7 separate regions of the Homo sapiens genome follow, and all the other regions are reported to be linked to region 4. The links are microRNA targets in miRTarBase. Many come from high-throughput screens and were not tested one by one. Region 4 holds a microRNA gene; each other region holds the end of a gene's coding sequence.
Evidence for each region. The annotated mature microRNA hsa-miR-4722-5p reads GGCAGGAGGGCUGUGCCAGGUUG and lies in region 4 at 2,363-2,385, opposite strand. An mRNA with a match to its seed (bases 2 to 7 or 8) in the 3' UTR can be bound and repressed. Matches are read on the target gene's strand: a 7mer-m8 pairs with bases 2 to 8, a 7mer-A1 pairs with bases 2 to 7 and ends in A, and an 8mer does both.

Region 1 (4,090 bases), not on the chromosome of region 4:
CGGTTGGTGGACAGCATGAAGAGGTTGACTTTGCAGGCAGCAGCCCCAAAGCGCCAGGTCTCATGGAGGAGGTAGTAGTCCACGCGGAGGGGCAGGTTGCTGATCAGGAGGAAGTCAGCGGCCACCAGGCTGACCAGGAACACCGTGTTGGAGGTCCAGGGCCGCGTGTGGATGCAGAAGATGAAGAGGGCCAAACTGTTCCCCACCAGGCCCAGGACAAACTCCAGGGCCAGGATTGGTGCCAGGAAGGCAGACACCAGCGAGGAAGAGGTGGGGTGGCAGGGCCCTCCAGAGGACCCCCCCACAGTGGTAAAGGCAGAGGGAGCAGAGGAGGGTGAGGGAGAGAAGGAGGGAGGGAGAACAGAGGAGGAGAGAGAGGGAGATGGAGAGCTCAGGTTATGAAGTTCCATGGGCTGCTTGGGCCATGGGCCTGAGAGAAGGTTCTGGAGTCTTCTACCCCTGCAGGAGTGCTCAGGGCAAAGTGGGATGATTGGCACTATCAGCTGGCCACCACGGTGACACAACATCCTGGGGTTTTCATCAGCATTCTCGCAGCCACTGAGAAACACCCTGTGTTCCTGTTTGCAGGCCAAGGGGAACCCTGCAGCCCTCCCTCCTTCCCTCCGCCTCGGGGTACTGAGTGATCCCACCACATGAGGTCTCTGAGCCCAGCCTGGGGGTTGTGCTGCTGGTAGAGGAGGAAGCAGGGCTCAGCAGGGGCAAGATGGAAGCCCAGAGAAACCCTGAAGTGGGAGGATAGTCCAGCCGGGTGAGGTGGGGGCTCTCAGGATCATGCAGCCCTCCCTGGACACCCCCTCCTCCACTACATATAGAGGCTGGTGGCTGCCTCCCTGCCCCCACCAGCTCTGGCTTCAGGGACTGTGGAGCCAAAAGGACATTGTCCTGAGAGGTAGGCAGGGAGTCAGTGAAGACCTCCACCGCCCTGCTGGTGGCCTGGAGGGAACCAGTCCTATTTGTGCTCCGCCAGCCTGCTGTGTGTCTGAAAGCCCACTGTAGTTCAGCTTTCAGTTGCTCCCAGGTTCCTGATGGTTCCGAAGTCTGTGATGGTCCCAAGTCCGGGTACACGGTGAAGTAGGCCCCATGGACGGGGACGCCCCTGCCAAATTTCTACTGCCATGGCACGGGGAGCTGGGGGCTTCTCCCGCAAATAGAACAATCCTGATTTTTCCCTGTCTGTGTCTCCCCATGGCTCCTTGTCCACTCCACTCCTTGCCCCCATTAGCATTCACTGCGGAATAGGGAGTGGGAGGCTGGGGCTAGCTCCAGACAAGGTACAAGTCCAGCTGTCCCATGGTGAGGTATTCTCATGAGCCCATGGGCTGGTCCTGTGGGTGGAGATGAGGGCTTCAGGCTCCTGATAACCCGGGACAGCAGGGCCAAGGGAGGTGCTGGTTCCAGGCTCCAGGGCCTGACCCCATCACTGCCAACTGGCTGGGGTCAGCAGTCTGCCATGTGTGGCCTGGCCTCTGTGTCCCAGGCACAGTGGCCCCTGGCCTCTCTTGGCTGCCCTGGGCTCCCATTTGGTCAAGGCTGAGGGCAAACATCCCTGGGAGAAGCAGGGTGGTGAGGCCCAGCCTAAGCTCCATATGCAGACAGGCCTGGGTTGGAAACAGAGCTGCCCTATTTCCAAACCTCTCTGAGCCTGATCTGTAAAATCAGGCACTACCACCTTCTTGGAGAGTTGTGAGGATAAAATGAGATAATTTATGTAAAAACTTATAGGCCAGGCACAGTGGCTTAAGCCTGTAATCCCAGCACTTTGGGAGGCCGAGGCGGGCAGATCACGAGGTCAGGAGATCGAGACCATCCTGGCTAACACGGTGAAACCCCGTCTCTACTAAAAATACAAAAAAAGTAGCCGGGCGTGGTGGCAGGTGCCTGTAGTCCCAGCTACTCGGGAGGCTGAGGCAGGAGAATGGCGTGAACCTGGGAGGCGGAGCTTGCAGTGAGCTGAGATCGCGCCACTGCACTCCAGCCTGGGCAACAGAGTGAGACTCCGTCTCAAAAAAAAAAAAAAAAAAAAAAACAAACTTCTAGGGGATTCCTTGGGACAGAGCGAGTGTTCACAAAAACAGATCTAATTTTCATGACTTTCTCTCTGGATTAAGCTTGCCCTGCATATGAGAGTAAACTCTTCTCTTCACGGCCATCGGTATTCTGACCTGGGTCCTCCCTGGAACATTCTATGTCTTCTTCTCAGGTCCTGCACGGAGCAGTGCATTGCTACAGGCCAGGAACGAGCCGCGTGGAGCCTCTGCCTGTGCCTATCCTGGACCATTTGTGTTTGAAGGAGCCTGATGGTGTTTTTTCTTTGCTTGCAGGAGAGGAAAGCCCTTAGGGGTGACGAGGAGGTTGAAGGTCCCGATGTCTCTTAGGGCCAGTAGCCTTTTCAGCAAAGGCAGGTCTTTCTCTGCTCCCAGTGGAGTGTAGGAAGGCAGTGAGCCACTGGGCTGGGGATGAGGGAGACAGGGGTCAAGTGTTCTTTTCTAGAGGAAGCTTTGAGTCCACGCAGGGACCTGTTCTGTCCAGATCTGTCACTCTCATGTGCATGCCCTCATTGACTTCTCACGGAAGTCCCAGGAAACTGAGCTGCGCCCGCTGCAGGTTCCACATTCTTGTCTCTTCCCACTGGTGCCTCTGAGGCCTCCAGCATCCCTAGACACCCATAGCAGGCTCAGGGGTCCCTCTGGAGTCTTTGAACAGGGCACCTGTGCATGACAGGGGAGGGAAGGGGACACAAGGCCAGACACCCCCACCAACACTGCTGAGCTCCTGGTACAACTTCATGCCCCTCTCCAGGCTGATCATAGTCTTTAGGTATTAACAGTGGTTAGCTCTGGGTGGGGGATTTTGTGTATTTCTGGGTTTTCTATAGTTAGCACAGATGACTTCTGTTATTGGAAAAAAACTCAACAGATGCTAGTGTTTTAAAGTTATGTAAAAAGACAGACTGGGCAACATGGTGAAATCCCCATCTCTACAAAAAAGAAAAAAAAAATTAACAGGGTGTGGTGGTGCATGCCTGTAGTCCCAGCTACTCAGAAGGCTGAGGTGGGAGAATCACTTGAGCCAGGAGGGTCAAGGCTGCAGTGAGCTCTGATCACACCACTGCACTCCAGCCTTGGTGACAGTGAGATCCTGTTTCAAAAAAAAAAAAAAAGTAAAAAGAATAAATGAGAACAGAGAAGGAAGTGGAGAGATGACATTAGCCGTGCTCCCAGGACCAGGCATGGAGCATGCGTGGATCAAGTCACACACACAGTGAAGAATGCCCATCCACAAACAGGGATGCCCAATAACAGACCCTCCAACACGTCCATGGTCACCTGGTGCCCTGATGCCCCAGACACACCACATGGTCCTGGGGGGCACATGGGAAGGCCAGTGATGACTGCCTGCGGCAGACCCCCAGGTGTGCGTTCCTCAGGAAGCCTTTATTGAGGGCCTTCTTGGTGTGGAAGTGCTGCACTGAGTCTGCAGGGACAGAGGAATGGGCAGGAGCGGGGCCGGGGGTAGACCACCTGGCAAGACTGGCAAGGCAGTGGGCTGAGTCTGCCAGAGAAGATGGGGAGCTGCTGCCCGCCCAGGGGCATGGCATCTGGGCTGAGAAGGGCAGGAGGGTGGGTGACAACAATGTGCAGGTCTGTGGGGGACACAGCGGCAGTACACAGAGAGGTAGTGGGGGCTGGGAGAGTTGTTTGGCAGGGATGGCACTCGAGGGTGCTTGGCACACCTGTGGCTGCTTCAGGCCATGGCAAGAGGGTCACCCCAGGGGCTTCTTGCAGGCAGGGTCCTGGGTCACAGACAGGGCCACAGAGCCTTGTGTTCGCTCCCAGGCATACCTGTGGACACACAGATGAGCAGGGATCACACAGAGTTGGACCCTGAGGATCCCAGGGAAAGCCCTCCCTGCGTACTCACGAGGTCCCAGCTAGCACCAGGAGGCTGTCATCAGGGGCCAGGCTCAGGCGCCGTCCCCCCATTGTCACCACCGAGGAGCCCTCCTGGAGAAGAGGAGCAGGAGAATCAAATGGAGACTGTTGGGCCTCATCACCTGGGTGAATGTCTG
Region 2 (4,085 bases), not on the chromosome of region 4:
TGTTTCACTCTGATTACCGGTGCATGCAGCCCCTGTCACATACCCCCTAGATTGCTCAATCGATCACGGCCCTGTCATGTAAAATCTTTAGTGTTGTGAGCCCTTAAAAGGGACAGAAATTGTGCACTCAACAAACTCGGATTTTAAGACACTAGACTGTCGATGCTTCCAACTGATTAAAAGCTACTTCCTTCACTATCTTGGTGTCTGTGGGGTTTTGTCCACGGCTCATCCTGCTACAAGGCTACTAATCTTCACGCAGCACATCCCCACATTTAAAACTTCAGTTAGGGTGGTCCTCATATTGACTCTAAGTGCCTCCTAATACAAATCTGTTTCCCTTTTCAGTCCCTAGAAGAAACATAATAGAGTGGGTCCAGTCCGTATTTCAGGCATGCCTACCACTTCAAAGCCTCTAGAAAATTCCATGCTTACATCAAATTTTTATTGAGCACCAAAAAGGCACAAGATACACAAGAGCAGATGAAATGGGTGCTGACATTAAGAGACCTAAATCTTTGAGGGAAATAAAATCAGTAAAAATAATCACAGAATAATATGTGAAAGGCCTTAAATGTGGTATCAAACACCAAGGGGCCAAAGAAGGTTTCAGTATCAGGGACTCGTGGAAGATTCCCAAAAGAGAACGGAGTGGCCACATGGAGGGACATATTCCAAGCAGAAAGAACAGTATCGGATGAAAAGAATGGGGCATATGGAGTGATAAACTAGTCTAGGTACTGGACTAATTAGGAAAAAACATGAAATCCAGCCTACAAAAAGACTTTGTTTCTCATTAAATTTCATAATATAAGAAGAATGAAATTTAGCTGTATTTATTAAAAATGTCCTTTTAAAAAGCTTAGAAAATGTTATCTGTCAAATTTTAGGGATTTTCTTCTATTGCTATTTTGAGAAGGTATCTTAATGTTAAGATGTTCAGATTTCTATTAAGAACAAATGACCTCATCCCGCTTCACATTCTACCTCCCAGAGACACATTTTTACAGGCTACCAATTAGTTTATTCTCTGAAAAAGGAATAGAGATTAAGTCCTTAAAATTAGTATTAATTGAATATAAGTGTAAAATCACCAAATTTCCTATTTTTAACTTTCTAAGACAGTAATAAAGTTTTAAAGTACATTATTCCTGGCTGGGTGTGGTGGCTCACGTCTGTAATCCCAGCACTTTGGGAAGCTGAGGCGGGCAGATCACCTGAGATGAGGAGTTTGAGACTCGCCTGGCCAACATGGCGAAACCCAGTCTCTACAAAAATATAAAAATTAGCCGGGTGTGGTGGCACACACCCATAATCCCAGCTACCAGGGAGGCTGAGGCACAAGAATCACTTGAACCCAGGAGGCAGAGGTTGCGGTGAGCAGAGATCCCACCACTGCATTCCAGCCTGTCCAACAAAGCAAGACTCTGTCTCAAAATAAATAAGTACATTATTCCTGATTATAACTATTTCCTCAATTCTAAGATTTTTTTTTTTTTTGCATTTCAGTATTTCTGAAATCAGATGATCTAAAAATTAATTAATGAAGTATTATTTCTCTTCTCCCCCTGAAAAGCTATGATAAAATCAATGATGTATTTTATAATTGATGGTATCTTAACATTAAGGCAATATAGTGATGAGAATAACTGTTGGCCTTCAGAACTCAATTTTTCAGTAGTCATAGTCCCTCAGGTGTCTTAGTTTCAGAGGAGATTTCAATAGATTTTATCATGGAATGGTGAACACCATAAAGTCAGGCAATGTCCCTATCCTTGCTTGAATCAGAGAGGGGAACTCTCACAACGGTTTTACAAACTTCATATCTCACCCAGTCACCTCCAAATGTGCCCCTCCTATCATAGCCCTCCATGTAACAAAAGGGAGAAGAGCTTTCTGATGCTTATGAAGTCCAGGGGTATAACTCATCTTTTGACATCAACTGATGTACACCACTGCCACACTGATCTGGGCCACACTTGAGCATTCTACACCAGGCATCAGTCCTAACTTACCTGGAATTTAAATACCAGATAGAGTGCAGTTCCTCCACCCTTACTTACAGGGCTCTGCCTAACCCCAAACAAAGATGCCTTCAAATCTGCTCTACAGCAGTTGTTTGGAAACAAGAGAAAAGTCATTATGCAAATATAAGTCATTCAAAACAATTCAGTCTTAAGGAGACAATAACTAGCACAGAAACGGGGAGATGAACTGTTTGTTCTGGGAGTTCAAATTACTGCCTTCAATGCTTTGTTATCAGGCCAAAAGGTAATTACCATTAGACCCAGTAACAATCTTCATTGTTAACCTAACACACCAATGACAGAGGAGAACTGAGAGCCAAGCACTTGGGTCTCATTTAATTTAATCACAAAACAAACCTCAGGTATAGCTGTTATTCTCCCCATTATAATAATGATAATAATGAAGAAACCGGGGCTTTTAGAGAGTGACCTGGCCAAGATCATACAGCCAGGAAATATTAAGGGTAGGAATGAGGAGTTTAGTTTGGGCGTTTAATTACCAAACTATCCTGGCTTCTGCTACGAACTACTTTTACAAAGACAGAATCTTACTGCATAGGTTAAACGACACTGGAATGACAGAGCAAGTCGTAGTTCTAAACATCTCACTCATTCAACAAGCATTTAAGTGATTCTAGACCGTCAGAGGACAACTGCAAAAAGTACTTGAAGAATAAATATTTAATAATAATGTAATTATAATTATAATCTGTATATCTAAACAGTGCCTTTGTAAAAACCCTTTCCATCATCTTCAAATTCAGTCTAAAAATAATTGTACGCTATACTTTTCAAGTGGGGTTTAAACTATTGTTTCATATTTAACATAAAATATTTTCCTATTTAAATTAACATACTTTTATGTTCACGGTAAACAAACTGCATAGGTTTTCACTTTCATTTTCTTCTGACATCTTCTGCAAAAGAATGGTCTGCCCATTTTTTGGATAAAAAGGCTAGAATAATGTGACCGGAGCTGGGTGAGGTGGCTCATGCCTGTAATCCCAGCACTTTGGGAGGCCAAGGCAGGCAAATCACTTGAGGCCAGGAGTTCGAGACCAGCCTGGCCAACATGGTGAAACCCCGTCTCTACTAAAAATACAAAAATTAGCCAGTCGTGGTGGCATGTGCCTATAATTCCAGCTACTCAGGAGGCTAAGGCAGGAGAATTGCTTGAACCCGGGAGGCAGAGGTTGCAGTGAGCTGAGGTTGTGCCATTGCACTCTAGCCTGGGAGACAGAGCAAGACTCCATCTCAAAAAAAATGAAAACATAAAAATAGAACAATGTGACTGGGAGAGACTTAAAGTGAGGAAAAATGAATGCTGAAAGAACTAGTAAACTGGCTGAAGATGGAACAACTCCCCATGTCTCCAGAGAGGCAGATAAGGGACTGTAAACCAGCAAATGCCACCTGCCTGTTATCTAGCTCAGAAAGGTGCACACCTCTGGAAGCAGCTGAATTTAAGTCCAGTGTGGCACTTTCAGAAAATGGCATCAAAGGTTGGACCATAAATCTTTCTTATTCTCCAGTCACTGGACATTTAAGAGCCAAGATATTGATGGGCTCTTTCCCTCCTTTTCTTTCTCCTTGTAGCAGATGTATGATTCATGGATTGTCCTTTCGTGGTCTCCATTTTCATCTTATTACTTTTTCTTTGCTTCTGCTTTCTGACAGCTCTGGAAAACAAGGTGCTAAATTATTTCACAGAATGAGCACAGTGAATTATGTAATTATGTTGAAGTTTAATTAACTAGCTAACCAAATAAGAAAATAGAAGAAGGGAAAGAATCTACTGTATTGCAAGCATAAATCCTCAGTCTCCTAACCATAACAACAAGGGAAGAGTCAGAGGCCTAACCAAGCAAAATGTTTGAGAAAAAAAAATTCTTTAAAAGATGGTTACTATGGATTTAGAACAAGCTGTCCGGGGCAAACACACCACAGAGGTAAATGCAAAGCTAGTGAGATTGGACTTTTTAAAAAAGTTTTTTGTACATCTGTATTGCTCAACTCAGCACTTCAATCTCCAAATCCTTGAATTCCGTTTTTTTTGGA
Region 3 (4,000 bases), not on the chromosome of region 4:
AACTCCTGAACTCAAGCAATCCACCTACCTCAGCCTCCCAAAGTGCCAGGATTACAGGCATGAGCCACCGTGCCAGGCCTCATTTGTCTTTTTAGAAAAGTTATACGCATATATAAGCCAATACAGATATTTTTGTCCTTTTTATACAAATGCTGAGTTGCTGCGTTCATTATTATTTTGGTGCTTGACTTTTTTCCACTTGATAGTAGAGCTCTTAGAGTTCTGTGTCACTAAAGATCTTCCTCATTTTTTAGCAGTTAATTTTGTTATAGGTGAATATGTGAAGGAATCATAATGCATTTTTTAATCCACTTTGGGTCTCACTCTGTCGCTCAGGCTGGAGTGCAGTGGCACAATCTCAACTCACTGCAACCTCTGCCTCCTGGGTTTAAGTGACTCTTATGCTTCAGCCACCGAGTGGCTGGGATTACAGGCATGGACCACACCCGGCTAATTTTGTTGTTTTTAGTACATACAGGGTTTCATCATGTTGCCCAGGCTTGCCTCCAATTCCTGGCCTCATGTGATCTGACCGCCTCAGCCTCCCAAAGTGTTGGGATTACAGGCGTGAGCCACTGCACCTGGCCTCCTTTCCAATTTCTGACCTCTGATTTTTCTTGTTTGTCTAATTGTGATGCCTAATGCCTCCAGAATAATAAGTTAAAAAAGAAGGATAATAGACTGGGTGTGAGGTGGCTGAAGCCTGTAATCCCAACACTTTGGGAGACCGAGACGGGCGGATCACCTGAGACCAGGAGTTTGAAACCAGCCTGACCAACATGGTGAAACCCCGTCTCTACTAAATATACAAAAATCAGCCGGGCATGGTGGTGCACGCCTGTAATCCCAGCTACTCGGGAGGCTGAGGCAGGAGAATTGCTTGAACCCGGGAGGCGGAGGTTGCAGTGAGCTGACATTGCGTCATTGCACTCCAGCCTGGGTGACAGAGCAAGATTCTATCAAAAAAAAAAAAAAAAAAAAAAAAAGAAGAAGAAGAAAAAGAATAGCGGCCATTCCTTCCTTGCCTTTAATGTAAGTAGGAATGTTATTAGTTTTCTCCACTAAGTGAGTGCATTGATTCTTGGGCTGGATCTTAGTCCAGTGAAGAATTTCGGGATTTGGAGAGGAGTATACTTGAGAAACATATTAGTCCATTATCACATTGCTATAAAGAAACACCTGAGACTAGATAGTTTGTAAGAAAAGGGGTTTAATTAGCTCACAGGCTATATAGGAAGCGTGGCAACATCTGCTTCTAGGGAGTCCTCGGGGAATTTTTACTCATGGCAGAAGGCAAAGTGGGAGCAGGCATCTTCACGTGGCCAAAGCAGGAGAAAGAGAGAGTGGGGAGGTGCTACACACTTTTAAACTACCAGATCTCACGATAACTCACTGTCATGAGACCAGCACTGAGGGGACGGTGCCAAACCATTCATGAAGGCTTCACACCCATGATCCAGTCGCCTCCCAGCCGGCCCCACCTCTAACATTGGGGATTACACTTCAACGTGAGATTTGGTGGGGACACAGATCCAAACCATATCAAAATCCAATTAAAAATTTTTTTGTTTGTTTTAGACACAGGGTCTTGCTATATTGGCCAAGATGGTCTCATACCCCTACCCTCAAATTAACCTCTCACTTCAGCCTCCCAAAATGCTGGGATTACAGGTGTGAGCCACAGCTTCCAGCCTTAATATAAATCTTGACTCAGCATTCTTTATTCTCACTGTCAGACTGCTCAATGCATCCCTTATTGAAGTTTCTTGAAGTTTCGAAAAACAGGTATGTTCAGATAATTTTCAGCAGAATTCATCAAAAAATGTTAACAACTCTTTAAAATTTTTACACATTTTATTTAGCACAATTGCTACCATTTAAAAATCAGGTGTTTTGGCCAGGCATGGTGGCTCACGCCTGTAATCTCAGCTCTTTGGGAGGCCGAGGCAGACAGATCACCTGAAGTCAGGAGTTTGAGACCAGCCTGGCCAACATTGTGAAACCCCATCTCCACTAAAAATACAAAAATTAGCCAGGCGTGGTGGTGTGCACCCATAGTCCCAGCTACTTGGGAGGCTGAGGTAGGAGAATGGCTTGAACTCAGGAGGTGAAGTTTGCAGTGAGCCAAGATCACGCCATTGCATTCCAGCCTGGGTGAGAGAGCGAGACTGTCTCAAAAACCAAAACAAAACAAAATCAGGTGTTTTATTCCACTCCCCCCATCAGTGTTTTCTTATTTCTAATACTTCTAGAAACCTCCTTTAAGTTTTCCTATTTTAGACAGACACCACACAGGTGCTCTTTTTTGGGAGGAGGGGGATGAGAGTCTTACTCTGTTGCCCAGGCTGGAGTGCAATGGTGCAATCATAGCTCACTGTAGCCTCTGACTCCTGTGCTCAACCCATCCTCCCACCATGGCCTCCCAAGTAGCTGAGACTACAGGCACACACCACGCTGCCCAGCTAATTTTTTAATTTTTTAGTAGAGTCAGGTGTCACTGTGTTGCCCAGGCTGGTCTTGAACCTCTGGCCTCAAGCAAAACTCCCACCTTGGCCTCCCAAATTGCTCGGATTACAGGAGTGAGCCACTGCACCTGGCCCATAGATGCATTAACACCTGTCTATGGTGGTGGAGAGAAGGCTCACTGCCTCTCCCAGGCCACTGGGAAATGACCTTGTGTATTCTGCAAATACACAAGAGGATCTGAAGCTATTCTTGAGGGAGACTTTCAACAGCAAAACTCAGAGCACAAAATGGAAAATAATCATAAAAAAATTAAATAATAATACTATCAAATCATAACGTGAATAATGCTGTTATTAGAGTTGAAGAGAAGCCCTTAGAAATGGGACAAACATTGTAATTCTCTTAGAGAACTGTAACTTAAACAGAAATACACTTAATAGAAGAGGAAAGAAAATGGTTCATGTGACACAAAGGTCCCATGTGTTGACTTCTTTGGTAAGATCAAATAAGTATTTAAGCCTAGCAATAGGGTCAGTCCAGTTAGTATTTCTCCTCACAAATGGTGAATATCAACTCCAGGATGGCTGGAGTTTTCTCATGGTTTGGTTCCACGCCATCTGCATGTCTTTACAAGTGATAAAAACCAGAATTTTCCAGCTGCTACTAGTCACAGGGGGTCCCCAATATGGGTTGTTTAATTATGATGACGGGTCCTGTCAATTGCATCCAGTAAAATTGGTCACATAGAGAACTCATCTAAAACTGAGGTTTTGTTGTGGTTTTGAAAGGTCCATTGGAATCCAGATTTGCAAAGCATGTCAAGTTATGGCAAAACATATGCCACCCATCTCAAAATCTTTCCTTATTATTGCATAACTTTGAAAGCCACTGTTGCGTTTGTTGCGATGAGGTTAGAGTTTTGTTGACATGATGATATTACTCTCTTCCTCTGGGTGAGACACATCTGGATTCTCACTTGGAGCAGGGCTCTGTACATCCTTCTGGGATTTGGTTGAGTAGGTAATATACATGCTTCTCATTAGGAAAATTCCAGCAATTACTGCAAAATAGCTCCCATAAACTAAAAACTGGAGAAAAACAAATAATTAGCCACATATAAAATATGACCATCTATGTCAATGATAATACATCCTAATACTGTTGGTTTGCTTGGATTATGGGGTAACTGAGACCCAGGTTTTTAATATGGGTCATTTAGGTTGAACAATACTCTCCTATCAAGTAAGAAATCAAGATCAAGTAAGAAGGTGTAAGCAATACGGTGACTAAGAGTCTTGGCTTTAGAGCAGGTTGCTTGGGTTAAAATCATAGTTACTATCATCAATAGTAAAAAACAAAACAAAACAAACCCAAAAAAACACTAAAACTCATTGACCTGTCTCTATGTCTTTGTTTGGAGGCTGGTGCAATGCTACATTCAATGTCTCCAAGAATAAATTTAAGCATTGAGGTTACTTCTTACCTGCCTTATCCATGTAAATGTTGTCCTAGTTGCAATTATTGCTCAAAACCT
Region 4 (4,081 bases):
CAGGAGGACCCCACAGTGGGTGCACTGCTGAAGCGGGTTCTCTGGCTGCCTTGAGCAGTCGCAGCAAAGCCAGACCCATGTGGGCCAGCAGCGTGGAACCCACGGCACCTGTCCTGGGGACTCTGCCCCAGCCTGGGGCTGGCCTCTGGGCTTTCCCATAGCCTCCAATCTGATTGTCCCTAGGCCCCTGAAAAGGCCAGCATCCACCGGCTGATGGAGGCCTTCATCCTCAGGCTGCAGACCCAGTTCCCCTCCACTGTCAGCACTGTGTACAGGTGTGGGTGTGTGTGGGTGTGTGCGGGGGGTGCGCGGGTGTGTGCTGTGCGCGGGTGTGTGCGGGTGGTGAGCTCACCACTCGTGCTCAGGCCAGGGCTTAGGGTGGAGCCCCAGCCCGTGTGATTCACCTGCTCCTCCCACAATCCGGCCACAGGACAAGTGAGAAGCTGGTGAAGGGCCCCCGGGATGGCCCTGCTGCTGGCGACTCCGGCCCCCGCTGCCTCCTCTGCATGTGTGCCCTGGACGTCGACGCCGCTGGTCTGTGTTTCATGCTCTTGGGGTGATGCGGGGAGGGAGCCAGGGAGTGGGTGTGGGGGCTCAGCAGCCCCAGGCTCCGTCACCCCCTCTCTGCTTGCAGACAGTGCCACGGCTTTTGGGGCTCAGACCTCCTCGCGTCTCTCCCAGATGCAGTCACCCATCCCCCTGACTGAGACCCGGACACCCCCGGGGCCCTGCTGTTCTCCAGGGGTGGGCTGGGCCCAGCGCTGTGGCCAGGGGGCCTGCAGGAGGTGAGTCCCTGTCCCTGCCACCCATGGCCAGCTGCATGGGGCGGGAGGGGGACCTGTCCTTACCCCACACTGCACGGCATTGAGGTGCCAAGGTGGGCACACAGCCAGCTCTGCTCCCGCAGGGAGGACCCCCAAGCCTGCATTGAGGAGCAGCTGTGCTACAGCTGCCGCGTGAACATGAAGGACTTGGTGAGTACGTGCCCACCTGTCCTGGGCCGGGCTTGGGGACGCGGGAAGGCCGTCACCTCGTGGGTGGCTTGAGGGGGTGCTGGCAGGTTTCTTGGCCCCTCGACACCGGCCTCTGTTGCAGCCCTCACTGGACCCCCTGCCGCCGTACATCCTGGCTGAGGCCCAGCTCCGCACACAGAGGTACTGGGGCCCACACTGCCGTGGCGCGTGGGTAAGGGGCCTCGGGGCTGGTGCCCACTGCAGCTTTCTCTCTAGGGCCTGGGGCTTGCAGGAGATCCGGGACTGTCTGATTGAGGACAGTGACGACGAGGCGGGCCAGAGCTGAGCGTGAGGACGTGCTTGCCGGGACAGCAGGCAGTGGCCACCTGGTACACCACACTGGAGCCGGAAGGCAAGGACGGGGGACTGGCCTCTGATTGTCCATTTGTATAAATAAAACATTTTTTAATTAAAAAAAAAACTCTACAGTACACGTGGGGGACGGCAGCGCCACGCAGGCCGTGGGGACGCAGTGTCCTTCTCTGACAGCAGCATCAGGGCTCAGGCAGGCCGGGAGGATGCATCACAGCTGGCGGCCTTGGACGGGGCAGTGGCTCCCCCGGCCTGAGGAGTGCCGCCCCTTGTGGCCACGCTGCCCAGCAGGCCGGCTCCTTCCCTCTCGGGCGCCAGCAGCAGCTCCTACTCCTTCTCACGAGTCCACTTGATCATGGTCTCCGGTGAGCGGTAGAGGAAGATGAGCTTGGCGTACAACTCCTCCTCCAGCTCCAGCTCCCGAGTCTCCCGCACCAGGAAGATGTCCTGGCAGAGCTTGAGGATGCGGTCCACGCACGGCAGCTCCTCGAACATAATGGAGTGCGAGATCTCGCTGAAGAATCCGCGCACGAACTTGCCGATGACCAGCACGATGGACACGTACAGCCCCATGATGCTGCGGGGGAAGCTGGTGAGTCCTGGGGCCGCCCGGAGCCCCCCGAGCTGCGGGGTGCCCCCCCAGCCACTCACTCACCCGTAGCCAGCCAGGAAGCCGAGGCTCGGTGGGCTGACCTTGTCACTGAAAATGACCATGGGCAGCAGGTTGCAGTCGGTCCGGCACTCCTGCAGCTCGATGACCCACCATTCGAGGAAGCCGGTGGCCCCCGCACCCTGCTCCCTCCGCAGCTGGATACGCACGCCGAGGTAGTCGGCCTCCTCATCTGGGATGGAGGGAGAAGATCGTTGAGGCCGCAGGTCACCCCTCTCTAGCCTCCCCCAACCCCCACGCCCATACTCACTGGGCTGCAGCTGCTTCACAGGGTTGGCTTCGGGCCCGTTGGGGGCACGGATGTACTTGGGGAAGAGATTAGGGATGACCCTGCAGGGAGGTGCTGGCAGGTCAGGCCTGGCCCAGCCAACCTGGCACAGCCCTCCTGCCCACCACCCGGGCCCTTCACTCACACAGACTGGTCCGAGGTGCCCTCGAGCAGGCTGGCCAGCTGCCGCCGTGCAGTGCTGTTGGGGGCCAGGGCCAGCATGTGCTTCTCGTTGGCATACTCCACAGTGCCTCCCTTCGCCAGGTCCCTGGGGGTGGGAACACAGCGTGACCCACTGTAGTGGGTCCACCCACCCAGGCACTGCCCCAAGTCCAGGACGAACCTCTGGAAGTTCCAGGTGAAGCGCAGGGTGATGTCGGCCGTGCCGTTGTAGAGCTCCCGCTTCATCTGGGCACGGCTGGGGGGACTGATGCGCCACAGCGCCCCGGAGCTGCCCTCAATCTGCGCCGTGACGATGTCCTCAGGGCTGTACTGGCTGATGAACTGCATGGCCAGCTGGGTACAAGTGACACCCTCAGTGACTGCAGCCGCCTCCCCACACCAGCTTTCACAGGGCAGAGGCCACTTACCGGCTGGGGGTCAAACTGCCGGGACAGCTCCTCATAGGCCTGGGCCGTGAAGGGGATGATGGACGGCTGCTGGGCGCTCATGGTGAACAGCGGCTGGGGCAGGCACGGGGACACGGGGCCACGAAGATGAGCGTGGAGGAGCGGCTGGGGGTGGTGCACCACCTTGGCCAGAACCCCCAGGGGATGGGAATGGACAGGCGGACCCACACATGCTCACCTCATAGCCGCCCAGCTTCAGGGTGACGGTGACATCGATGGGCTGGTTGACAACCCCAACCACGGAGCGCACCAGCGACATGAAGAGCAGTGGGAACCAGATGATGGCGATGAGGAAGAGGATGATGAGGCCACCCATGCCGTACTTGACGATCTTCTTCTTCTTCTGCCCTTTGGGCTGCGGGTATTTCTGGAGGGGAACGACACAGGTCATACGCTCAGCTCTGCCCTTCCTGCGGGTCACACAACCGCATTCTCCAGCTCACCCAGCAGCCCAGAAAAGCCCCAGCCTGACCTCAGTATGGCACAGCGGTAGTAATGGTGGGCAGACACAGGCCAGTGGAGTAGAACTAAGAGTCCAGTTGGAACCCTCATGTTCAGGGGTCGTTGATCTTAGACAAGGGAGCTGTGACCGTTCAGTGGGAACGGACAACCTTTTTCAACACGGTGCAGGCACCGCCCCAGGCAGGAGAATGAAACGCAACTCCTGCCTCATACCATGTGCCAAAATTTACCTCAAAGTGGATCAAAGAGCGAAACTTCAGAGCTAAAACTATAGAACTTTTAGAAGAAAACGGGCAAATCTTCATGAACCTGGATTTGGCGAAGGAAACAAAGTAAACCAGATATTACCAAAATAAATACTTTGTGCTTCCAAAGACACCAAGAAAATTTAAGAGACAGTCCATAGAATTGGAGAAATTTTCTGCAAATTTTAATTGATAAGGTTCTAGCAACCAGAGAATACAGAGAATTCTTCCAATTCAGTCATTTCTAGCCAATGTATCTGCAGAAAAACAGAAAAAACTCTAATAAAAAACAACCCAACTGCTGGGTGTGGCGGCTCACACTTGTCATCCCAGCACTTTGAGGTCAGGAGTTTGAGACGAACCTGGCCAAAAATACAAAAGACTAGCCAGGCCTGGTGGTGCACACCTGTAGTCCCAGCTACTCGGGAGGCTGAGGTGGGAGAATCGCTTGAACCTGGGAGGCAGAGGCTACAGTGAGTGAA
Region 5 (4,000 bases), not on the chromosome of region 4:
GACTTCTTTACCAAGCTGATGTGAAAAGAATGTGACCTGGGAATGCGGAGGCTTCATTTGGGGTGGACAGCTGCTGTCTGCTGCCTTGGCAGGGGCTCCTACTCCCAAGTGGGGGCTGAGCCCATGAGCAGGAGCTCAAGGAGCTGCAGGTCTGAGGCCAGACCTGTTTAATTCTATCCCACAGAGTCGCTGCCCAACGTGGTGGTGAATGGTGTGCTCCAGGGCCTCTACAGCTTCAGCATCAGCCCAGATAAAGCCCAGCCAAAGGCGGCCTGTCACCCTGCTCCTCTGCCACCGATGCCCTGATCAGTCCAGAGGCCTTTGGCTGCCTCCTAAGAAAGTCATGTGCCTCTGTCCTATGAACTCCATATAAGGCTGGGTCCTCCTTTGGCCTGGACCCAGGACTTAATTACCCAGTGCCCAGTTGTGCCACATTCCCACTCAAGGCTCAGAACTTGGCTCGCATTGGTAGCTGGAGGTGGTAGAATTTGTATGCTCTTAGAGCCCAACAGCCAAGGCAGGGTCAAGAAGATAAGTAATAAAAGAGGAAGTCAGCCAGGCGCGGTGGCTCATGCCTGTAATCCCAGCACTTTGGGAGGCCAAGATGGGTGGATCACCTGAAGTCAGGAGTTCGAGACCAGCCTGACCACCATGGAGAAACCCCGTCTCTACTAAAAATACAAAATTAGCCGGGCATTGTGGTGGTGCATGCCTGTAATCCCAGCTACTCGGGAAGCTGAGGTAGGAGAATCTCTTTTTTTTTTTTTTTTTTTTTTTTGAGACGGAGTTTCACTCTTGTTGCCCAGGCTGGAATGCAATGGCACGATCTCGGCTCACGGCAACCCCCGCTTCCCGGGTTCAAGCAATTCTCCTGCCTCAGCCTCTCGAGTAGCTGGGATTACAGGCATCCGCCACCATGCCCGGCTAATTTTTGTATTTTTAATAGAGATGGGTTTCACCACGTTGGCCAGGCTGGTCTTGTACTCCTGACGTCAGGTGATCCACCCGCCTCGGCTTCCCAAAGTGCTGGGATTACGGGCGTGAGCCACCGTGCTCGGCCCAAGGCAGGAGAATCTCTTGAAGCCAGGAGGCGGAAGTTGTGGTGAGCCGAGATCGCGCCACTGCACTCCAGCCTGGGCAACAAGAGTGAAACTCCGTCTCAAAATAAATAAATAATAAAGGAAGAAGTCAGCTGGGTGCAGAGGCTCATGCCTGTAATCCCAATACTTTAGGAGGCCAAGGCAGGAGGATGCTTGGGTCTGGAAGTTTGAGACCAGCCAGCGCAACATAGTGAGACCTGTCTCTACCAAAAAAAAAAAAAAAAAAAAAAAATCAATTTAGAGGTAGGCTATGAAAAAGTACAGATACATCCCTTAACATAGACTGGAGGGTGGTGGCAAGGGGAGCAAATGTGGAGGCCCAGTAGCTGGCAAAGTTTAGAAGCAGGGGGCAAAAGCTCCTGCCTGACTTTTCCTGGGTAGCTCCTGGGTCAAAATTTCAGGCAGGATCCCAGGGAAGGGGCAGGCACCCATTGCCACAGGAGAGTTGCAGGCATGTTGGGATGTAGGCCTAGGGGAGGTGCTGCAGGCTCAAGAACCAGGCCCACACATTATATATTAAAAAAAAAAAAACCCACATTTTTTTTTATTGGTCAGTGTTGGTAGGAGTTTGTTACAAAAGTGAGTCCATGGGCCTGTGGAATGTGAGGGGAGTGGGTCCGCTCCACCAGATGCCAGCACCGGGGCCAGTGCAGCTCAGAGCCCTGTGGCGGACTACAGGGCCTGCACAGACGGTCACTCAAAGAAAGATGTCCCTGTGCCCTACTCCTTGGCGATGGCAAAGGGCTTCTCCACCTCGATCTTGCCGCAGTCTGCGATGATCACATCCTTCAGGGGTTTATCCCGGCTGTCTGTCTTGGTGCTCTCCACCTTCCGCACCACCTCCTGGAAAAGAAAGGTGGAAGCAGGAGGGCATGGTGGATCAGGAGGTCCACCGCTCAGGAGAAAGGCCCCAGCGTATGGCTCAGGAGGGCTAAGACCCACAAGTGATCAACAGCACACAAAACTGGAGGCACCAAAATTCTAACAGACTCCTGGCCAGAGCAGGGAGAATGCAGATTTGACGAGGGGGTACAGGAATTTTGTTCCTTTGAAGTAAGACCCAGGTTGGGCCAAGGGTGAGGAGGAGGAAGAGGGTGACCAGGGCATGTGGCTTCTCAGGGACATTGCGTTCAGCTGCACTCTGTATACCTCAGGGGTGGGACCAGCACGTCACTGAGTGAAGGAGGGGAGGGAGGCTCTGGCAGTTGTGCAGCCTTCCTGGCTGGGCTCTGAGGGGGCTGGAAGAATTTAGAACCTTGGAGGCATGGAGGTACAGGGTTTATTCTGGACAGGAGCACTGGGCTGCATCTGTGGGTTGGGTCCTTTTGGGAAAGGGATGGACACATGGAGCTCCTGCCCTGGGGTCTGTGTTGAATCCCCGGTGAGGATTGCCCAGTAGTAGCCCTTGCTTCCACAACTCACCATGCCCTCTAGAACTTTGCCAAACACCACATGCTTGCCATCTAGCCAGGCTGTCTTGACTGTCGTGATGAAGAACTGGGAGCCGTTGGTGTCTTTGCCTGCGTTGGCCATGCTCACCCAGCCAGGCCCGTAGTGCTTCAGTTTGAAGTTCTCATCGGGGAAGCGCTCACCGTAGATGCTCTTTCCTGGGAAAAAAGACAGAGCAGGTCAGGGGCGCTGGATTGCGCCAAACCAAGCAGACATTCGGGGCCAGGACTGAGGGGGCTTAACCTGTCCTCTGTGCCAGGCTAGGCTGGAGTGGACTACAAGGACATAAAAGCAGCGTCCTTCCTATCTTCTGGCCTCAGAGCCAAGCCATGCTGACTGAGGCCAAGTGGGGCATCAGGCCAGGCTGATGTGGTGAACAGCTCACAGAAGGATTACTTTGAGAAGATAGTTTTGTGGCTTTTAAATAAGGCGCATGTTATCAGCTCCCCTTAGCTATGGCCCAGGCCTGCCACGGAGGGACTTTGGTGGAGGGAAGTGCCGTGCAGGATGCAGGGGAGTCAACAGGGTCGGAACTCTCCAGAAAAGGAGGACTGCTGTGGCTGACCAGCCTGTTTTCCTATGAGCACAAAAGACACAGGCATAGCTGCAGAGGAGAAAGCAGCCAGAGATGTGTGGGGAGGGGCAGAAAAGAGGGGCTGCCCCTTGGATTCTGGAGAGTCAAAGCCTCTTAACAAGGAATGAACAGGAATAAAAGACAGCTGTGAGTGTGTGTGACGCGTCTGTCCACGTGGGGCTTGGGGATATGGTAAGGGCAATCCGGAGTGATCTCTATGCCATTTCAGAGATCCTAGTTCCAAAGCTGCTTCCACGAGGAACACCGAAACCCTTCTTTTTCCCTATCACCCCTTGGAGACTGACACTGTGCATGAGGCCCCAAGAAACTCAGCCAAAAATGGGGTCATTTTCATTTTGTTTTATCTAACACCTTTCAAACATATTTGCATGCAAAACTCTTTTTTCCTTCTCACTGCACCTACCTTCATCCTGTGGTTCCACAGAATGGAACTGAGCTGGGAAACTGTCCTAGACAGATGCCAACCAGGAAGATGTTTCTGATTGGGCAGCAGGTAGGATGACTGAAAACCAAGAATGACCAGACTCTGGCTGGTGGGGACAGGGTGCTTCTGCCTGTGCTCCACCTCTCACCCCCACGCTGGGGAGACTGGACTCTGCCACATGTGCAGTGAGACCTGGCTGGAGTGCTGGCTAAAAGCCTCCCCCATTTGAGCCAACTGTGGGATTTTGATTATAGTTGTTATCCAGAAAACCCCCAAATCTCCATCCTTAGCTCCAGCCACTCTCTCAAGATACAGGGGTTCCAAACTCAAATGGACATTTCTATTTAAACTCAACATACCTTGTCATCTTTCTCTCCAGACCTCAGTTATTCTTTTGACCCCTTTTCCTCTGCACGTGGCTCAGGTTGTCCC
Region 6 (4,090 bases), not on the chromosome of region 4:
GTTAAAGATCCCTGACCTGTTCCGTGACCTGGAGATCATCCCAGCCTTACTCCACGGGGACCTCTGGGGTGGAAACGTAGCAGAGGATTCCTCTGGGCCGGTGATTTTTGACCCAGCTTCTTTCTACGGCCACTCGGAATATGAGCTGGCAATAGCTGGCATGTTTGGGGGCTTTAGCAGCTCCTTTTACTCCGCCTACCACGGCAAAATCCCCAAGGCCCCAGGATTCGAGAAGCGCCTTCAGTTGTATCAGCTCTTTCACTACTTGAACCACTGGAATCATTTTGGATCGGGGTACAGAGGATCCTCCCTGAACATCATGAGGAATCTGGTCAAGTGAGCGGGCCTTACTCTGGAAGGAGGCCTCAGAGGTTTCTCCACAGTCCTCTTCTGGGCAAATTCTTGTTTCTTCACATGCTGGACTAGCTTAAGACCAATGCAGTAGCTTATTTCCAAGCCTTGCAAAGTATATAATATCTAAGAGGAAAGGTTTTGTCATCCCAGCGTTGTCCACTTTGTGGGGCTTTGTAGGTAGACGGAGCCACACTACAGGCAGGGTATGAGCAGAGGGATGTATGGAGTGTGGGTGACTCTGAGCCTCACTGCTGCTGCAAGGTGGGGAAACTGTAAGTGAACCCCTGTGGGTGCGGGGGAGGGTATCCGGTGCGCAGGGAGGTGGCCAGCGCCCCCGGGCACTGCTGCTCATAGGTACCTTTCCACTGCCTCCTCCCTGCTCTCCTGTGCAGGAATGTCTCTGAGCTGTTCACGTTGATGCTTCTTGGTTGGCAAGACTTGGGTGTAGACATGAAACCATCTTACTAAAAGCGTCTTAAAATGACCAATTCCAGAATCAAGCGTATTCCGTTTTCTTCCTGCATGATCCCTGGGCCCTCCCGCAGGCTGAGCAAGTCTGTAAACTGATTCTGGGAGAAACCAAGCTGCTGGCCATAGGGTGTCCTTGGGTACATCCAGGAGTCTTCATTGCTTCTGTTATTACCCCGTCTCCTCTGCCATTTTCTACAGCTTGCTGAGTTGTCATTCCTTTGCAACATTAAAATACATGCTGAACTCATATTTTTCCTTCCTTCACTGTTGTAGTAAAGAGACATATTTCATGAATGGCATTGATGCTAATAAATCCTTTGCACAAAAATTTGAATAAACTTCCAGTGGTTTCGATAACGTACAAGATTGTATATTTCCCTCATTTATTGTAATTCAATATCTTAGTTGTTTGCTGAAAAACTTGTAATATTTTGTGACAAACAGGTACAACTAGTGTTTTTGTTGTTGTTTTTAGAGACGGTCTTGTTCTGTTGCCTAAGCTGCAGTGCGGTGGCATGATCATAGCTCACTGCAGCCTCAAACTCCCAGGTTCTAGCAGTCCTCCCATCTCAGCCTCTTGAGTAGCTGGAACTACAGGCGTGCACCACCACACCCGGCTAATTTTTGTATTTTTAGTAGAGATGAGGTTTTGCCATGTTGCCCAGGCTGGTCTCAAACTCCTGAGCTCAAGCAATCCTCCCACCTTAGCCTCCCGAGTGCTGGGATTACAGGCCTGAGCCACCATGCCTGACCCAACTGTTCTTTCTTTCTTTCTTTTTTTTTTTTAAGACAGAGTCTCACTGTTTCCAAGCTGGAGTGGTGCAATGGTGCGATCTCAGCTCCCTGCAACCTCTGCCCTCCGCCTTCTGGGCTCAAGCAATTCTCATGTCGCAGCCTCCTGAGTAGCTGGAGTAGTCGGTGTGTCACCACAGTGGCTAATTTTTGTATTTTTAGTAGAGACGGGGTTTCACCATGTTGCCCAGGCTGGTCTCCAACTCCTGACTTCAGGCAATCAACCCGCCTCAGCCTCCCAGCTGTTTCTTTTTTCTTTTTCTTTTTGAGATGGAGTCTTGCTCTGTCACCCAGGCTGGAGTATAGTGGTGCGATCTCAGCTCACTGCAACCTCTGCCTCCTGGGTTCAAGGATTCTCCTGTCTCAGCCTCCCGATGTAGCTGGGATTACAGGTGTGTGCCACCACACCTGGCTAATTTTTGTATTTCTAGTAGAGATGGGATTTTGCCATCTTGGCCAGGCTGGTCTTGAACTCCTGGCCTCAAGGAATCTGCCTGCCTTGGCCTCCCAAAGTGCTGGGATTACAGGCCTGACCCACCATCCCTGACCCAACTATTGTTTCTTAAAAAAAACTCTTTTTAACCTTGCCTTTTTGTTAGGGTAGAAGGATAGCTCAGAGCTTCAAAGAGCAGGACTAGCCTAAGAACTGTCTGTGATATTTGACCAGAGGTGCAGCCTAGCTGCCATTCTTCCTCACCCTGTGGAAGACATTAAAGGGAGAATGAAAGTAGCTGTAGAATTACCTTTGGGGGAAGAAGCCACTTGGTGAACTTGGCAAACACCCGTGTTTGAGGGGTCACCCAGGGTGTCATGAGCTGGGCCGGAGGGGATGGATTGATTACTTGTCTTGTTTGCTTGTTTCTGTTGTAAGTCAGGGCCCCTCAGCAGAAGGCAGAACAGAACCGAGTTCCTTTAGAATGCTGGTTTTTGTGTGGAGTGAGGAAGGACCGTGAGTGTGGTCAGTTTCCAACCTGACAGGACCTGCTCCCGTTGGCCAGGACTGCAGCTTGTTACTTTGACCCTGGGAAGAAGGTAAGTGTTCCCAAGAAAAGGGACGTCCCAAAGCGGCGCCATCCCGATGGCACGTGTGCTGCTCGACTCCCTGCCGGGTAGGTCCATCCTGACGGCGCATGTGCCCCTCAGCTCCCCCCACTGGGTAGGTCCATCCCGACAGCACCTGTGCTGCTCGACTCCCCCCACTGGGTGGGTCCATCCCGACAGCACCTGTGCCGCTCGACTCCCCCCACTGGGTAGGTCCATCCCGACAGCACCTGTGCTGCTCGACTACCCGCCGGGTAGGTCCATCCCGACAGCACCTGTGCCCCTCACCTCCCTGCCAGACGGTGCGTGTGCCGCTTGGCTCCCCACCAGGTAGGTCCATCCCGACAGCACCTGTGCCGCTCACCTCCCCACCGGGTAGGTCCATCCCGACAGCACCTGTGCCGCTCACCTCCCTGCCGGGTAGGTCCATCCCGACGGCGCGTGTGCCGCTTGGCTCAAGGCCCTGACATCGTTCCACTCAGCACAGCATCAGGTGCCCGGGACCCGGGACATCATCGTTCTGTGTCAGCACATCAGGTGCCCGGGGCCCGGACATCATCGTTCCACTCAGCACAGCATCAGGTGCCTGGGACCCTGGACATCATTGTTCTGCTCAGCACAGCATCAGGTGCCCGGGACCCTGGACGTCATTCTGCATCAGCACAACATCACCAGTGACGAGAGCCTCCCCAAGTGGTTGACGGGAAGGATGGTTCGGTCCTCCAGAGGCGGTGGCCTTCTCTTCCTCGATGACATTGCCGGGCTGCACCTTGTGAGAGGCCGTCGCTGAGAGTGCAGCCAAATGGAACCATCAGGAGGGGTGTCTCGGGGGTGTCGAAATGGTAAACAGTAGTGGGTAGTTTTCAGATTTTGCAATGCTGCGGTATGTGTCAGCTTTTTATTTTTTATTTTCTTTTTTATTTAATTTTAATTTTTCTTAGACAGTCTCACTCTGTCACCCAGGCTGGAGTGCAGTGACATGATCTCGGCTCACTGCAGTCTCCGCCTCCCAGGTTCAAGGGATTCTCCTGCCTCAGACTCCCCAGTAGCTGAGATTACAGGCACCTGCCACCATACCTGGCTAATTTTTATATTTTTAGTAGAAATGGGGTTTCACCATGTTGATCAGGCTGGTCTCGAACTCCTGACCTCAAGTGATCCGCCCACCTCGGCCTCCCAAAGTTCTGGGATTACAGGTGTGAGCCGCCGCATCTGGCCCCGTGTCAGCATTTTAAATTTGTAAGTTGATGCAATGCTTATTCTAAAATATCTAATTTTGTATTATTATAATATATGCATGTTATATATTTTTATATATACACACTTTTTCATAAAGGGCTATCAAAATCCTATAGGCTTCAGGCACAATAGATGCCCTTGCATCTACTCAGAGTTGATTCTTCTGGATTATTCTGTCCATGAGAGACCATAT
Region 7 (4,076 bases), not on the chromosome of region 4:
CTACTAGAGGCACTGGGACAAGAGCAGGAGGCTGGATCCTAGGCCCCTGGGATCTGTACCCAGGACCTGGAGAATACCACCCCACCCCCAGCCCATAATTGGGACCCAGAGCCCTTTCCCAGCACTTAAAACAGGAGCCTAGAGCCCCCTGCCCAAACAAAACAGGACATCTGTGACCGCCCTACCCCCACGCCAGCCCCAAACTAAGATATCCCTCACACCCAGCCCCCATTACCTAGGGACAAGAGTCTTCCCCAGCCTTGAACCCAGGACCAAGAGCCACCTACATCCAGCCCCAAAACTGGCTTCAGGCCAGAGCATCCATGGCCAATTTCAAATTGTGAACCCAGAGACACTCCCATCCACCCTTCTCCATGCTCATCCCCAAACTGGGGCCTGGGGCAAGGCACTCTCAAATCTTGAACCCTGGACCAAAGCTTTTCCAGACCCCACCCTACCTTCCAACCCAGGTCAAGACATTGCCAAATCTTGAACTCAGAACCCAAGTGTTCCATGCCCCTGTGTGGATGGAGTCGGGTATCCTGACTGTTGGACCCCTGGTCCAGGTGATCCCGACCCTCACCAGTCCCATTTGCCTCCCTCCAGCTCTGCTTAGGCATTTTGCCCCTCACCCCAATGTTCCACACCATCGACAACCAAGGGGTGAGGTGGGGACAGGCCTCAGCAGGGAATGGGGCGTATATGTTAGTGTTGCTGCAACAATAAAGCCTGTTGCATCTCTCATGCCAATTTGAGCCTCCTGGGTAAAGTCCTTGTACATTTCAAAGGACAGAAGTGGCCTACTTTTCAATTCTGCTAGACTCTTCCTGAATATGTGGGCTGAAGAGGTGATCTCTGAGGCCCTTCCTTGAACTTATGACCTCTGGATCAGCATTAAAGCACAGGGAAGGACAGGTGCAGTGGCTCACGCCTGTAATTCCAACACTTTGGGAGGCTGAGACTAGAGGATCACTTGAGGCTAGGAGTTTGAGACCAACCTGGGCAATATAGCAAGACTCTTATTGCTACAAAAAAATTAAAATTTAGCTGGGCATGGTGGTGTGCTTCTGTAGTCCCAGCTACTTGGGAGGCTGTGGCAGGATGGCCAGAGCCTAAGAGGTAGAGGCTGCAGTGAGCTGTGATTGTGCCACTGCACTCCAACCTGGGCAACAGTGAGAACCTGTCTCAAAAAGCTGGGCATGGTAGCTCACGCCTGCAATCCCAGCACTTTGGGAGGCTGAGGCAGGAGGACTGCTCAAGCCTAGGAGTCCGAGACTAACCTGGGCAACATAATGAGACCCCCATCTCTACTTTTTTTTTTTTTTTTGAGACAGTCTTGCTCTGTCGCCCTGGCTGGAGTGCAGTGGCATGATCTCGGCTCACTGCAATCTCTGCCTCCCGGGTTCAAGCGATTCTCCTGCCTCAACCTCCCGAGTAGCTGGGATTACAGGCACGTGCCACTACGCCCGGCTAATTTTTTTTGTATTTTTAGTAGAGACGGGGCTTTACTGTTAGCCAGGATGGTCTTGATCTCCTGACCTCGTGAGCTGCCCACCTTGGCCTCCCAAAGTGCTAGGATTACAGGCGTGAGCCACTGCGTACCCGGCCTACAATTTTTTTTTCTTTTTTAATTAGCGGGTATGGTGGTGCACAACTGTAGTTTCAGCTATTCAGGCGGCTGAGGTGGGAAGATTGTGAGTCCAGGAGGTCAAGGCTGCAGTGAGCCGTTATCGCGCCACTACATTTCAGCCTGGGCAACAGAGTGAGACATTGTCTCAAAAAAATAAAAATTTTTAAAAAATGTATAGGGAGGTTAAGGACAGAGTCTTTGTTATCACCATTTATATTACCAAGAGTTATTGTTTGAGGTTGGCTAGAAATTTGAGTGCAGACAGGCAAAGAAGTTGCCCCACATCACAAAGCAAGTAAAGTCAAAACAGATGACACTATCACAGGCTATTCCCAAGGTATGTTTTTTCCTGCAAAAATATATTATCTGGTCTTGACTAGAGGTGTGGGTCCTCAAGGTGAGGCAGACAGAGCAGCAACACATGGGTTCAGTTTACACATTTATTATACAAATCCCCTTCCAGTGTGGGTAATGTCTTGGGTCCAGATCCACTGGTATAAAAAGAAAAGCTTAACGCCAGGAAAAGGGGGTAGGGGAACCCCCAGCTCCGAAAATCACAGACAGGTATCATAGAAAACACAACTTGTGTGGGTTTGCTTAAAAAGTGGTGGATTGGGGCTGGGTGCAGTGGCTCACGGCTGTAATCCCAGCACTTTGGGAGGCCAAGGCGGGCAGATCACGAGGTCAAGAGTTCAAGACCAGCCTGGCCAATATGGTGAAACCTTGTCTCTACTAAGAATACAAAAATTAGCCGGGCATGGTGGCGTGTGCCTGTAATCCCAGCTACTCGGGAGGGTGAGGCAGGAGAACCCAGGAGGCAGAGGTTGCAGTGAGCTGAGATTGCGCCGCTGCACTCCAGCCTGGTGACAGAGCAAGACTCCGTCTCGAGAAAAAAAAAAGGGTGGAAGGAAAGCCAAGGAAGGTGTGAGTGGTGAGTGGCCCGTGGCCCGTAGGCAGACCTCACCTGAGGATTTCACTGGCATCTACCGGGTGCCCCTCCTGTGGGGCCTCCTGACTGGGGGTGGTCAGGGCAGAGGCCATGGGCACAGAGGGGGTTGGGCTCTTTCAGGCATCCCACCCAGACTGCAGTCCTTCCAAGTGTGGGCAGAGAGCCCACTGCCCCAACTGCCCTGGCGATGCGTGGCAGGGATTTCTGTTCACACCGGAGTCTCCTGGCTGCCCTAAATGGCCCTGAGACCCGATATGGTCCATTTTATGGAGGGGGTTCCTGAATGGAACCTGGTTGGGCATGGGAACAGGAATGAACCCAACCAGATGAGATCACAGTTTCCCTTTTGTAAAACGCCTAGTGTTGGAGGAAGACAGTGAATACCTAAGTCACAACTGTAAACATAAATGGAGGAAGGGGCTTGGGGTCCCCATGACATCATCCCCCCTCTTTTAAGCTAGCTGAGGGCCCCCAGTCCCCAGCACAGTGTGAGAGAAGAAGCAGGGTGTCAGACACCTTCCTGGGCCTACGGGGAGCCAGGGGCCTTGGAAGATTAGGTTGGCGCACTCTGCTCAGGACTGAGAGCAACCACACCCCAGGGCCCAGCGAGGTCAGCTGTGTGCTCCCCAGATTGGAATCGTGCCCAGGCCAACAAGGGACATATCAGAAGGGGTCAGACCAGTGTCCCCGGGGTCTGGGTGTCAGAACTGGAGGACTGCTCCCCCTCTAGCGTCAGGTCACTTAAACGAGCGCTCAGCTCCGGGGGATACAGGAAGTCCGCGTAGTATCTTTAGAAGGGGTAGCAGGAATCCGGAGGACAGGGCGGGGAAGACAAGAAGAAGAAAAGACAGACAAGACACAGAAAAAGAAAGGAAAAGAGGCTCGTTAAAGAGGTGGAGGCAGGCACAGGACAGCACTTTCAGGCTCTGGGGCATGGAGAAAAAAGGAAGAAAACAGCAAGGGGCATGAGATGTCCCTTCCTCCCGGCACCCTGGCTTCAAGGCTCATCTTCAGCCTATAACTTGATAAAGAATTGCTGCTACCAGTGCCCAAGATCCCCTCCACCAGGACCCCATGGACTAATGCAGGTCATGTGCAGTAGAGTGACCCTGTGCCATCACAGCAGCTAGTTTCCTCATGGTCCAATTCATTAGCTATCATGACTAGCCACTCCCTGGCCTGGATATCTTCGCCATCTGCCTTACGAGACCCCTACCCATCAGTAAAAGCACCCCCCATACCTGCCAGAGACAGGGGGCGCCGTGAAACTCCTCGAGTGTGGGAGTGGCGCCTGGCTGGGGGCCCCGTACAGCGCCTGGCCCACCTCATAGCAGCGGGCATGGAGGAAGGGTGGGTGTGGCGGGCCCACGGAAGGGAGCACAGGCCGGCGCTGGGGCCCCGCAGCCAGTCCCGAGTTCCGGATGTACCAGTCCCGCAGCCCCTCCAGAGCCAGGTTCTTGTGGCCACTGCGTTCACCAGCCGAGGGGATACGGGTGG

Region 1: miRTarBase lists HAAO as a target of hsa-miR-4722-5p. Seed matches in the 3' UTR shown: 7mer-m8 at 3,634-3,640 and 7mer-m8 at 3,516-3,522.
Region 2: the mRNA of ZCCHC4 is a reported target of hsa-miR-4722-5p. Seed matches in the 3' UTR shown: 7mer-m8 at 3,188-3,194.
Region 3: miRTarBase lists SLC19A3 as a target of hsa-miR-4722-5p. Seed matches in the 3' UTR shown: 7mer-m8 at 1,328-1,334 and 7mer-m8 at 868-874.
Region 5: miRTarBase lists SNX22 as a target of hsa-miR-4722-5p. Seed matches in the 3' UTR shown: 7mer-m8 at 869-875, 7mer-m8 at 1,457-1,463 and 7mer-m8 at 2,451-2,457.
Region 6: the mRNA of FN3KRP is a reported target of hsa-miR-4722-5p. Seed matches in the 3' UTR shown: 7mer-A1 at 871-877.
Region 7: the mRNA of CCDC120 is a reported target of hsa-miR-4722-5p. Seed matches in the 3' UTR shown: 7mer-m8 at 2,431-2,437.

The regions. Positions count from the first base shown.
Region 1 is chr2:42,763,653-42,767,742 of GRCh38, forward strand. HAAO (3-hydroxyanthranilate 3,4-dioxygenase) reads right to left here. Exons shown (of 10, transcript NM_012205.3): 9 at 3,943-4,025; 10 at 3,437-3,863. The coding sequence ends at 3,785. OXER1 (oxoeicosanoid receptor 1) reads right to left here and starts at 483. Exons shown (of 1, transcript NM_148962.5): 1 at 1-483. The coding sequence starts at 410. RefSeq lists an enhancer at 3,766-4,090.
Region 2 is chr4:25,368,650-25,372,734 of GRCh38, reverse strand. ZCCHC4 (zinc finger CCHC-type containing 4) reads right to left here. Exons shown (of 13, transcript NM_024936.3): 13 at 2,352-3,706. The coding sequence ends at 3,571. Among named protein-coding and RNA genes, the nearest start is that of ANAPC4, 6.6 kb to the left of the region's middle.
Region 3 is chr2:227,684,020-227,688,019 of GRCh38, forward strand. It overlaps SLC19A3 (solute carrier family 19 member 3), which reads right to left. Exons shown (of 6, transcript NM_025243.4): 6 at 1-3,554. The coding sequence ends at 3,378. Among named protein-coding and RNA genes, the nearest start is that of SCYGR5, 19 kb to the left of the region's middle.
Region 4 is chr16:88,713,953-88,718,033 of GRCh38, forward strand. MIR4722 (microRNA 4722) reads right to left here and starts at 2,385; the gene lies at 2,326-2,385. It overlaps CTU2 (cytosolic thiouridylase subunit 2), which reads left to right. Exons shown (of 15, transcript NM_001012759.3): 10 at 184-275; 11 at 431-534; 12 at 635-785; 13 at 908-974; 14 at 1,096-1,154; 15 at 1,230-1,444. The coding sequence ends at 1,299. PIEZO1 (piezo type mechanosensitive ion channel component 1 (Er blood group)) reads right to left here. Exons shown (of 51, transcript NM_001142864.4): 45 at 3,071-3,259; 46 at 2,854-2,946; 47 at 2,607-2,779; 48 at 2,409-2,531; 49 at 2,246-2,325; 50 at 1,981-2,167; 51 at 1,386-1,902. The coding sequence ends at 1,653.
Region 5 is chr15:64,154,203-64,158,202 of GRCh38, forward strand. SNX22 (sorting nexin 22) reads left to right here. Exons shown (of 7, transcript NM_024798.3): 7 at 185-3,279. The coding sequence ends at 306. PPIB (peptidylprolyl isomerase B) reads right to left here. Exons shown (of 5, transcript NM_000942.5): 4 at 2,523-2,707; 5 at 1,615-1,943. The coding sequence ends at 1,821. Among named protein-coding and RNA genes, the nearest start is that of SNX22, 4.5 kb to the left of the region's middle. RefSeq lists enhancers at 1-209, 1-74, 85-244.
Region 6 is chr17:82,726,832-82,730,921 of GRCh38, forward strand. FN3KRP (fructosamine 3 kinase related protein) reads left to right here. Exons shown (of 6, transcript NM_024619.4): 6 at 2-1,182. The coding sequence ends at 340. Among named protein-coding and RNA genes, the nearest start is that of FN3K, 6.7 kb to the right of the region's middle. RefSeq lists an enhancer at 2,950-3,450.
Region 7 is chrX:49,067,835-49,071,910 of GRCh38, reverse strand. CCDC120 (coiled-coil domain containing 120) reads right to left here. Exons shown (of 11, transcript NM_001163321.4): 10 at 3,821-4,076; 11 at 2,057-3,367. The coding sequence ends at 3,253. It overlaps PRAF2 (PRA1 domain family member 2), which reads left to right. Exons shown (of 3, transcript NM_007213.3): 3 at 1-750. The coding sequence ends at 42. Among named protein-coding and RNA genes, the nearest start is that of PRAF2, 4.1 kb to the left of the region's middle.